Linked DNA regions of Homo sapiens: all the other regions are linked to region 1. Evidence: fine-mapped expression QTL. A gene starts in region 1. Each other region holds a variant in brackets. All regions are shown on one strand. Distances are from middle to middle.

What was found. PIP is the estimated chance that this variant, and not a neighbour inherited with it, causes the effect. A credible set is the group of variants that fine-mapping cannot tell apart.
Region 2: its variant is the best candidate, but not a certain one, in a credible set for the expression of ATP2C2-AS1 in whole blood (TOPMed, PIP 0.67).
Region 3: its variant is the best candidate, but not a certain one, in a credible set for the expression of ATP2C2-AS1 in vagina (GTEx, PIP 0.87).
Region 4: its variant is the best candidate, but not a certain one, in a credible set for the expression of ATP2C2-AS1 in lung (GTEx, PIP 0.67).

What each region holds. Positions count from the first base shown.
Region 1 is chr16:84,466,363-84,468,862 of GRCh38, forward strand. ATP2C2-AS1 (ATP2C2 antisense RNA 1) reads right to left here and starts at 999. Exons shown (of 3, transcript NR_146503.1): 1 at 942-999.
Region 2 is chr16:84,544,701-84,547,463 of GRCh38, forward strand. No RefSeq gene overlaps it. Among named protein-coding and RNA genes, the nearest start is that of MEAK7, 41 kb to the left of the region's middle. RefSeq lists enhancers at 1-448, 1,938-2,689, 2,690-2,763. The variant C/T (reference allele first, on the strand shown) is at 1,182.
Region 3 is chr16:84,011,543-84,014,305 of GRCh38, forward strand. It overlaps SLC38A8 (solute carrier family 38 member 8), which reads right to left. Exons shown (of 11, transcript NM_001080442.3): 10 at 1,459-1,510. Among named protein-coding and RNA genes, the nearest start is that of SLC38A8, 30 kb to the right of the region's middle. RefSeq lists a silencer at 2,437-2,586. The variant G/A (reference allele first, on the strand shown) is at 1,622.
Region 4 is chr16:84,371,278-84,373,777 of GRCh38, forward strand. All of the region lies in intron 1 of ATP2C2 (ATPase secretory pathway Ca2+ transporting 2), which reads left to right. Among named protein-coding and RNA genes, the nearest start is that of ATP2C2, 4.0 kb to the left of the region's middle. The variant G/C (reference allele first, on the strand shown) is at 1,177.

The DNA.
Region 1 (2,500 bases):
CTGATACCAAAACTAGAGAAAAATACTAGAGACCAACATCCCTTATGAATATATGCACGAAAATCCTCAACAAAATATGAGGAAATCAGATCTAGCCAGGTACGAAGAATATAAGACACCAGGACGAAGTGGGGTTAATTGAGGAATGGAATTCAAGCATTCCAAAGTTCAACATTCAAAACCAATATAACTGAAAAGTTCAACATTCAAAAACCAATATAACTCACTATATTAATAGTCTGAAGAAGGAAAAACACATGGTTATATCAATTAATGCAGAAAAGGCATTTGATAAAATTCAATCTCCATTTGTAATAAAAACTCTCAAACTAGGAATTGAAGGAAACTTCTTCAACCTGATAAAGAACATCTACAAAAAACCTATAGCTAACATCATACTTAATGATGAAAAACTGAATTCTTTCCCCACAGGATAAGGTCCAAGGGTGACCAGCCTCACCACTCCTATTCAGCACAGTATTAGAAGTCCTAGCCAGTGTAATATGGCAAGAAAAGTTAAAAGGCATTAGCAAAGAGCCTGGAAAGGAGAAAATCACAGATAACGTAATTGTCCACACAGAAAATCCCAACAAATCTTTTTAAAAAAGAAAAACCCTCGTAGAATCAACGAGTTTAGTAAAGCCACAAGATACAAGGTTAACACACAAAAAGCAGTCGTATTTCTATATATTAGCAATGAACAACTGGAAACTGAAATTTAAAATTGAATACTATTTGTCTGTCTCAAAAAAAAGTATCAATTCTCCCGAGATTGTTGTATTAGGTTTAACACAATTACCATCAAAATCCCAGGGTTTTTTTGTTTTTGTTTTTTTTTAAGACACAGATAAACTTGTTCTAACAAGCTTGGTATGATATTGTTATCAGCAGACCTATTTCAATTTCACTGGTTTTTACATAGTATCTGATGTTAGGCAAACCTGAGTTTAAGGGCACAGTGCTCCAGGTGGCTGGCCAAGTCTGCCCAGGCCTTCTGATACTGACTGCAGGTCCAAGAGTTTCCCACAACCACCTTCAGGTTGGATGATTCGTTGATGAGGCACACAGAGCTCACTGACACCTGTCATGCTCACAGCCATGTCTATTACCAGGAAAAGATACAGATTAGAACAGCCCCAGGGCTGCAACTGCAGAGACTGGTCACCCTCTCCCTCTGAGCTCAACAGTTTCTGAGTCCTGAGTCTTTCTAGCCAATCACTGGGTCTGAGAGTGGTTTCCTGCCCCCCACAACACAAGTTCTATGAAATTGTATGACACACATCAATTCAGGTAACCACTGCTACAATGAGGAGGCAAAACTTCCATCGCCCCTGAAAAACTCCTCCTTACTTTTTATAGTAACACCCTCCTAATCCCAGCAACCTCTAATCCCTTCTTCATCACCATAATGTTGTTCCTTCAATACTGTTACATAAATGGAATCATGGTATAGAACCTTTTAAGACTGGCTTTTGTCACTAAGCATAATACCTGTAAGGTCCCTTCAAGTTGTTTTATGTGTGTTCTTCTTCATGGCTGACTAGTATTCCACTGCATGGATGTACCACAATTTCTTTATCCACTCACTCATGGAGTGACAGAAACTCCTGTACAATTTTTGGAAGTCTATATGAATCTAAAATTATTTCAAAGTGTGTAAGAAGATAAGATATACTCATAGGGCAAAAATACACCAGGTAAAGACAAACAACACACAAGACCAAGGTGACACAGTCTAATCAGACAAGATTAAAAGAAAGGCCAAAAGCATTAAAGGAGACCAAGAAGGAAATTTAACAAGATATAATCACCACTGAAAAATCCATAGGCCAGACTATGTACCAACACAACATTCAAATTTAAAGAGGAAACAGTATGGGAAATTCAGGCAAAGGATACAGAAAATTCATTATATTAACTTACCACATGAAAGGACACAAAACCTCAGTGATTCCAAAGAGTAGATCTAATATAGATGACTTCTTGGTCGGGCATGGTGGCTCAGACCTGTAATCCCAGAACTTTGGGAGGCCGAGGCGGTTGGATCACTTGAGGTAAGGAGTTTGAGACCAGCCTGGGCAACATAGCGAAACCCCATCTCTACTAAAAATACAAAAATTAGCTGGGCATGGTGGTGGGCGCCTGTAATCCCAGGCTACTCGGGAGGCTGAGGCAGGAGAATCGCTTGAACCTGGGAGGCAGAGGTAGCAGTGAGCTGAGATCACACCATGGCACTCCAGCCTGGGCAATGAAGTGAGGCTCTGTCTTAAAAAAATAATAATACAGATGACATCTCTAATCACTATGCAATCTAATTTAAAGACGAGTGACAGGACTAGGGGAAATTCTCTAGCACAGCAAAATTTAAAAACTCTTGGGTACAAGAGAAAATCAAAATGAAGGCCACAGAAAATCTAGAAGCTTATGATCAACACACACCTATCTATACAATACTGCAAAATAACTCAGGGCCCAAGAAAAAAGTAATAGCTTTATGTAT
Region 2 (2,763 bases), 78 kb after region 1:
ATTGCAGCCCGAGACTCCTGCAAAGAAAATAAAGCAGACGAAGGGGCCTGGAGGCCTGAAACCTGGGCCGGGGGCATCAGGGGCTGCACACACCCTCATTTCACACCATCTGGGCATTTCCTCTGTGCCCCAGAGTCCCCAGGATCATTTCGTTTAAATGTGCAAAAATGAAATTCAATTTCTAACTGCACTCCGTGTGCTTATGAAGTAGTAGAAAACTCGGAAAGGTGGCACTTTAGGATAATTGACCTCGTTCAGGCTCAAAAGCCCCTTTGGCCAGTTCCTGGGTAAATTCAGGATTTGCATTCCATCGGGGCTATTCTCGGGTGTCCTCTCCTCCTGGCTGACCCCTGAGCCTGAATCCTGGGATTATTTTTAAAGCCTGGATATCACGCTGCTTCATGGTGCCGTGCAAAGCACTTGGTGTTTCCGTTACAGGGGGGACACCTGCCTGCTTCCAATTTTCGGCACTATAGATGATGCACGCTGCTGTCTCTGGAGGAATGTCACAGGATAATAGCTCATGTTCGAGGACTGCTTAGCCGGCCTGAAAGTTTTTGCAAGTATTAACTTATGTAATTCTCCCAACTCTCCTTGAGCAGAAGTTGCTATTGTTAGCTCCATTTTACAGATGGAGAAACTAAGGCACGGAGAGGTGAGGTGACGATAAGTGGCAGAGCTGGGATCTGAAGTGTCACAGAGAAGGGTGGGGAGGAGCTGGCACAGAGAGAAACAGCAAAAGTGGATTGCCTTCGCTCCATGCTCAGGACAAGTCTCCCTCTGATTAAGTGCACTGTGTTGAGAGGCCCCTGGGGAAGGTCTCAAAGCCATCACCCACAGCACAGATGGTGGAAGCTGGCACCCCTGCCATGCTGTGCTGGAAGTGTGCTTTGGTTACAGCCTGTGTGAAGGGCGACTTGACAGAGGCTGTCTCCATGTCAAAGGTGCATGTCCTGACCAGGGGCGGTGGCTCACGCCTGGAATCCCAGCACTTTGGGAGGCCGAGGTGGGTGAATCTCCTGAGGTCAGGAGTTTGCCAGCCTGGCCAACATGGTGAAACCTCGTGTCTACTAAAAATACAAAAATTAGCCAGGCATGGTGGCAGACACCTGTAATCCCAGCTACTCTAGAGGCTGAGACAGGAGAATCACTTGAACCCAGAAGGCAGAGGTTACAGTGAG[C/T]GGAGATCGCGCCACTGCACTCCAGCCTGGGACAGAGCGAGACTCCATCTCAAAAAAAATAAAAAATAAAACATGGTGCACGTCCTCTTTTGACCCTCTGCTGGCTATCTGTCCTCGGGAAATACCTGCCCATGTGCATGAAGAGGCATGGATGCTTATGCAGGGATGTTCCTTGCAGCATTGTTTGCAACAGTAAAGAATTGGAAATATCCTAAAATGCTCATCAGTAAGTGAGTGGTTAAATGATGGTACATTTACACTATGGAATCTGTTACCATAAGAAAGAATGCTATGTCTATATCTGGGTTTCTCAACATGGGTACAAGTGACATTTGGGCTGGATCATCCTTTGTGGTTGGGGGGGGGAGTGTCCTGTGCATTGCAGGAGGTTTAGCGGTATCCCTGGCTCTACCTACCAGATGCCAGTAGCACCAGCCTCCTTGGTGTGACACCCAGAAATGCATCCAGACATTGCCGAGTGTTCCCTGGGGGCAAAATTGCCCGTGGTTGAGGACAGCCAGTCTATATGCAGTGAAGTATAAAGGTCTCCAAAACAGACTAATACATGAAAAAAAAAGTTACAGAACTGTCTGCATTAAAAAAATACAATGCTGGTCAGGTGTGGTGGTTCAAATCTGTAATCCCAGATTTCTATTCTAAAAAATAGAAAAACGTAACTGGGCGTGGTGGTGCACACCTGTAGTCCCAGCTATTCAGGAGGCTGAGGTAGGAGGATTGCTTGAACCCGGGAGGCAGAGGTTGCAGTGAGCCGTGATGGCACCACTGCACTCCAGCCTGGGCAGCAGAGCAAAATCATGTCTCAATAAATAAATAAATAAATAAATAAAGCTAAGCTATTTATCTATATAGACATAGATACAGATACAGAGTCATGCATTCAACGAGTTTTATTGAGCACCTGCCCCATGCCTGGAACTGTTCTTGGTGCTGAGCAAGTAACGACGATCAAAATGAAGTCTCTGCTCTACTGGAGATTACCCTCTGGAGATTACACTTTGTCTTCTGGCGGGGAAAGACAGCAATGAACAAGCGAATAGACACACGGTATCAGGTGGTGATAAGTGCTACAAAGAAACATAAGTGGGGCTCGGGGACCTCGAAAAGACACAGGTGCTGTTTTAGAATGGGGTCAGGGCAAGGTGACATTCTACTCCACTAAGGTGACATTGAGCAGGGAGCTGCATGAATGAGGGACCAGCATGGGTACTTAGAGGTCAGTGGGCTCCAGGCACAGCAGGAGTCCCCCTGAGGCAGGATGGTGCTGTGTGAGCAGGAGGCCCAGCGAGGAGACCCGAGGGCCTGCAACAGAATAAATGAGGACCGTGGTGGGCGACGAAGCCAGTGAGACATTGGGGGCACAACCACAGCCGGCCTTGTTGCATAGCACTGACTTTGCTTTTCGCCTCGAGAACTGGAGCGATCAGGAGAAAATCCAGCTTGGAATGTAAAGAGGCCACGGTGGACGGTTCTGGGAGTAACGGAAGAGAAAAGGGGGAGGGGGAGAGGGAGAGAGAAAAGGAAGAAAGGGAGGAAAGCAAGGAGGGAAGAGGGGAAACACCAG
Region 3 (2,763 bases), 450 kb before region 1:
CTGCCATTTAACATTATCTGGGATGGGGTGAAGGGTGGCCCCCAAAATTCATGTCTACCTGGAACCTGTGCTTGCCAGCTTATCTGGAAACTGGGTTTTGCAGATGTAATTAAGGAAAAGATCTTGAGAGAAGATACAACCTAGATTTAGGGTGGACCCTAATCTGATGGTAGGTATCCTTATAAAAGAAAGGCAGCCAGGTGTGATGGTGGGCGTCTGTGGTCCCAGCTACTCAGGAGGCTGAGGCAGGAGGATTGCTTGAGCCCAGGGGGTTGAGGCTGTAGTGAGCCACAATTACGCCACTGCACTCCAGCCGGAGCAACAGAGCAAGACTCTGTCTCAAAAACTAAAATAAATAAAAGCAGAGGGATTTCTGAGACGCAGAGACACAGGGAGAAAGCTAAATAATGATAAAGGCAGAGACTGGAGTGATGTAGCCACAGGCCAAGGAGCACCTGGGGCCACCAGAAGCTGAGGCGCCTTCAGAGAGTCCAGCCCTGCCAACACCTTGATTTCACACTCCTGGCTCCAGAACTGGGGAAAAAATTCATTTCTGTTGCTTTAAGCCTCCCCACCATGCCCCAATTTATGGTAATTTGTTACAATAACCCCATAAAACTAATACATCATCTCTTTACCTGCCTCAGCCTCAGTTTCCCCATCTATGGGATGGGAGGGAGTCACCCAGAACCCCAGACTACCCAGGGGCGGCTGAGGAAGCGCACATCATTCACGTGTACATCGTCCTCTTCCGTGGGTCAGACTCAGCTGCTCAGTGGCAAAGTACAGAGGCTCAGTCGTGTCTGATCCACAGGTCCGCTCGGGGATAAATATTTGTCAAATGAAGGAAAGATCCAAATTATCTGGTCTCAACAGCATTGTATGCCAGGCAGGTGGGTTAGCATGGGGCCTGGGAGCCAGGGGCCTGGGTTGCATCCTAGCTCTGTCCTCACTAGCATCCGGGCCCGCCTCCTCAGCTGTAGGATGAAGACATGTGGGTATGGTGGGGAGGTGAACATGTAAAAGGACCTAGCTCAGTGCCTAGCAGAGGAGCCTGGGAACAGCGACCCACTGCTGTGATGATGGTGTCTGGCCGGCCATGGGGCCTTTCTAACCCAGCCTGCACCCTGATCCTGCCCTGGGTCCGAGCCAGGTAACAAAGGAGGGTACAGATGCACCACTGGGTGCTTCCAGAGGCTGGAATCTACATGAAATCCCAACCACAGACCCTCAGAGTGGAAGGGAAGGCCCTTGGAGGACCCGGTGTTACTGGCCCGGGCTCCTATCCTGGCTCAGATGCCCTCATACTGGGTAGACAGAGACTCTCTTCCTGTGGCTCGCAGGTTTCTCACCTGCAGGATGCAGAGGATGAGAAATAGGATCTGCAGGGTCCCCTGAAACATTCTTACTCTGATCCGGGGCACACCCAGGGTGCCACCTCATCTTAGGGACACTTACTTGACTCTTGGTCCTATAGGCTCGACACCCATTGCACAGATGAGGCACAAACCTGCAAAAAAGACAGGGTCACCCACAGTTCTTCGTTATCAAACCCAAAGCAACAAAAAGGTCCCGGGAGAGGTCCTCAGGGACCCAGGAGGCCAGCAAGGCCTCCGCCCAT[G/A]GGTGCCCCTGGCTCAGGCCCCCTGGAGAGGCAACACAGTGGAGCTGGAAGGACGGGGCTGGAGTCCCAGCTCAACATGCCCTAATGACTTAGGCAGAGGTCTGGCAGCAACCGACTTCCCAGAGCCCCATCTTTCAGGCAACCTTGACAACATGCCCCCCCACAGCAGAGTCTATGAGGAGATGGTGAGAGTCCATGCCTGACACCCGGGAAGTGCTCGGCAACTGGCAGCTACCATTACTTTCTTTTGTTGTGTGTGTGTTTTTTTTTTTTTTTTTTTTTTTTTGAGACGGAGTCTCACTCTGCTGCCAGGCTGGAGTGCAGTGGCACCATCTCGGCTCACTGCAACCTCCACCTCCCGGGTTCAAGTCATTCTCGTGCCTCAGCCTCCCGAGTAGCTGGGACTACAGGTGCGTGCCACCACACCCCGCTCATTTTTGTATTTTTAGTAGAGACGGGATTTCACCATGTTGGTCAGGATGGTCTGGACCTCTTGACCTCGTGATCCGCCCGCCTTGGCCTCCCAAAGTGCTGGGATTACAGGCATGAGCCACTGCACCCAGCCCTTTTTTTTTTTTTTTTTAAATAGTTCTGCTAGGATTCAGGGCCATGTAGCTTGGCCTAAAGCTCCCAAAGGATCCTCTCTCAACTCAAACCTGTCCTGGGCAGTCCTTCCCACCACAGGAAATAGCCAGCGCTACAACTGGCCACCTGGTCACAGCATCAGAATTTAATCTAACAGCCCAGACCAGGGAGTGTGAGGGAGGAGCCACGTGGCCACAGCCTCACCTCTGAGAAGCTCCACCCAGAGCCTGAGTGAGGAGCCGTGTGGCCACACCCTCAGCCCTGAAAGCCCCGCCCAGAGCCTGAGGGAAGGGCTGTGTGACCACACTCTCATCTCTGAAAGGCCCGCCCAGAGCTGAGGGAGGAGATGCATGGCCACACCCCTCACCTCTAAAACCTCCTCTCAGAGCCTGAGGGAGGAGCTATGTGGCCACACCCCTCACCTCTGAAAGCCCCGCCCAGAGCCAAGGGAGGAGCTGTGTAGCCACACCCTCACCTCTGAAAGCTCCACCCTAAGCCCGAGGGAGAAGCCACAAGGCCACACCCCTCACCTCTGAAAGCCTCGCCCACAGCCTGAA
Region 4 (2,500 bases), 95 kb before region 1:
AGACTGAGGCAGGAGGGTCACTTGAACCCCAGAGTTCAAGATCAGCCTGGGCAACATAGCCAGATGCCATCTCTGCAAAAAATTAGGCGTGGTGGTGTGCACCTGTGGTCCTAGCTACTCACCAAGCTGAAGCAGGAGGATTGCTTGCACCTGGGAGGTCAAGGCTGCAGTGAGTTGTGATCATGCCACTGTGCTCCAGCCTGGGCAACAGAGTGAGACCCTGTCTCAAAACAAAACAACAACAAAAAGGTCTTTGAGAGGCCTCCTTAATTTAGTTACTAGAAAAAGCTTCTCACTGCTGACCTGAACATTAGGGTAAGGAAGAGATTGGAGCAGAAATTCCTGCTTCCCAGGTGACTCAGCGCCAACTCCGGGGGAAGCTGTCTCTGCCCCTCAGGGCTCCCATCTCTTAAGTGAGGCAGGTATAGCCCCAGCCCACTGCCTTCCTGGCTGGTGAGCAGATGCATCCTTCTGGGCTCTCCAGGGTGAGGCTTGGATCCCAACAGACGAATGTAGTGACCACCCATCCATTCAACCTAGATTCACGGAGGGGGCTCCCTCTGTGTGTCAAGTGAGTGCTACCAGCTGGAGTTGGGGCTGATAAGGATGCACAGTTCTCTACCCTCAGGTATCCCAACCAGGAGGCAGAGACAGGCACCCAGCAACTGGTCACAGTTCACTGTTTAATGCCAACGTGTCAGAGCTGGGAGAAAGACGTGATGTTTAAGATGAATAGGAGTGGCAAAGGGTGAGCTGGATGAAGGGCAGGGATTGACAGCGAGTTCTAGACAGAAGAGGTAGAGGCGTTGGGGTTGGTAGGATGAGGCTGCAGAGGAGGGTCGTACGGAGCCTTGTCAGAGTGTGGGCTTTATCCCTGGAGCAGTGGGGGATCGTTGAAGGGTTTTAAGTCAGGACATGATAGTCACTCATTTATTCCCAGATGGGCCAAACATTAGAACTGTGATAAAACAGGCACAGTCAGATTTGTGTTTTTAAGAGATTACACTCAGTTACTGGAAAAGAGTATGTGTGTGGGAATTCTGAGGCTCATGCACACACAACTTTAACCCAAGGCTTGCCCAAACTCACAGATCATTAGTGTTTCTCAGAATTCAGCAACATGTGGGCATCTTCTTAAAGAAATGTACTGCAACCCCACAGTGTTTTTTCTTTCGA[G/C]ACAGTGTCTCGCCCTGTCACCCAGGCTGGAGTGCAATGGCATGGTCTTGGCTCACTGCAACCTCTGCCTCCCAGATTCTCCTGCCTCAGCTTCCCGAGTAGCTGGGATTACAGGCACCCGCCACCACACCCAGCTAATTTTTGTACTTTTAGTAGAGATGGGGGTTTCACCATGTTGGCCAGGCTGGTCTCGAACTCCTGACCTCATGATCCGCCTGCCTCAGCCTCCCAAAGTGCTGGGATTACAGGCGTGAGCCACCGCACCTGGCCAGTGTTGTCTTAAATGATTTGTACAAAAGTGTGATATCAAGTAAGTATAAGCATAAAACTTGTAATAAACATAACTGTTTGCTTATAACTCAACTATAAAATCAGGTTCAATTTAGGCCTGTTGCGGTGACTCACTCCTGTTTTCCCAGCACTTTGGGAGGCTGAGGCGTGCAGATCACTTGAGTTCAGGAGTTCAAGACCAACCTGGCCAATATGGTGAAACCCCTCTCTACTAAAAATACAAAAATTAGCCAGGCGAGGTGGCAGGCACCTGTAATCCCAGCTACTGCGGAGGCTGAGGCAGGAAAATCCTTTGAACCCAGGAGGCGGAGGTTGCAGAGAGCTGAGATCACGAAACTGCACTCCAGCCTGGAAGACAGAGCGAGACTCCCTCTCAAAAAAAAAAAAAAAAGTCAAATTTATAATAAAATTATAAAGTACAAATAGAACAGCCTTATTTTGATATATTGGTGATGTCTATTAAAACTCAATCAGGCTGGGCATGGTGGCTTACGCCTGTAATCCCAGCACTTTGGAAAGCCGAGGCAGGCGGATCACCTGAGGTTACGAGTTCGAGACCAGCCTGGCCAACATGGCAAAACCCCATCTCTACTAAAAATACAAAAATTAGCTGGGTGTGGTGGTGGGTGCCTGTAACCCCGGCTACTCAGAAGGCTGAGGCAGAAGAAACGCTTGAATGCAGGAGGTGGAAGTTGCAGTGAGCCAAGATTGCGCCACTACACTCCAGCCTGGGTGACAGAGCGAGACTCCATCTCAAAACAACAACAACAAAAAAAGAGACTGGAAACCAAAGCCTTTTTTGAATCTCATTTTGAAATGAGGTCTCATAACTTCTGCCATATTCTATTCGTTTGATGCAAGTCTAGGTCCAGTCTACACTCAAAGGGAAGGGGTTACACAGGCCATGGGTACTGGGAGGGAGTGATGGCTGGGGACTGCCTTAAAGGCTGCCCATTGGAATAGTAGAAAGAAATATTTCCTTCAATGACGTCATTCACGTTAAAAAAAATCCTAGAACCACATCTGACATGTC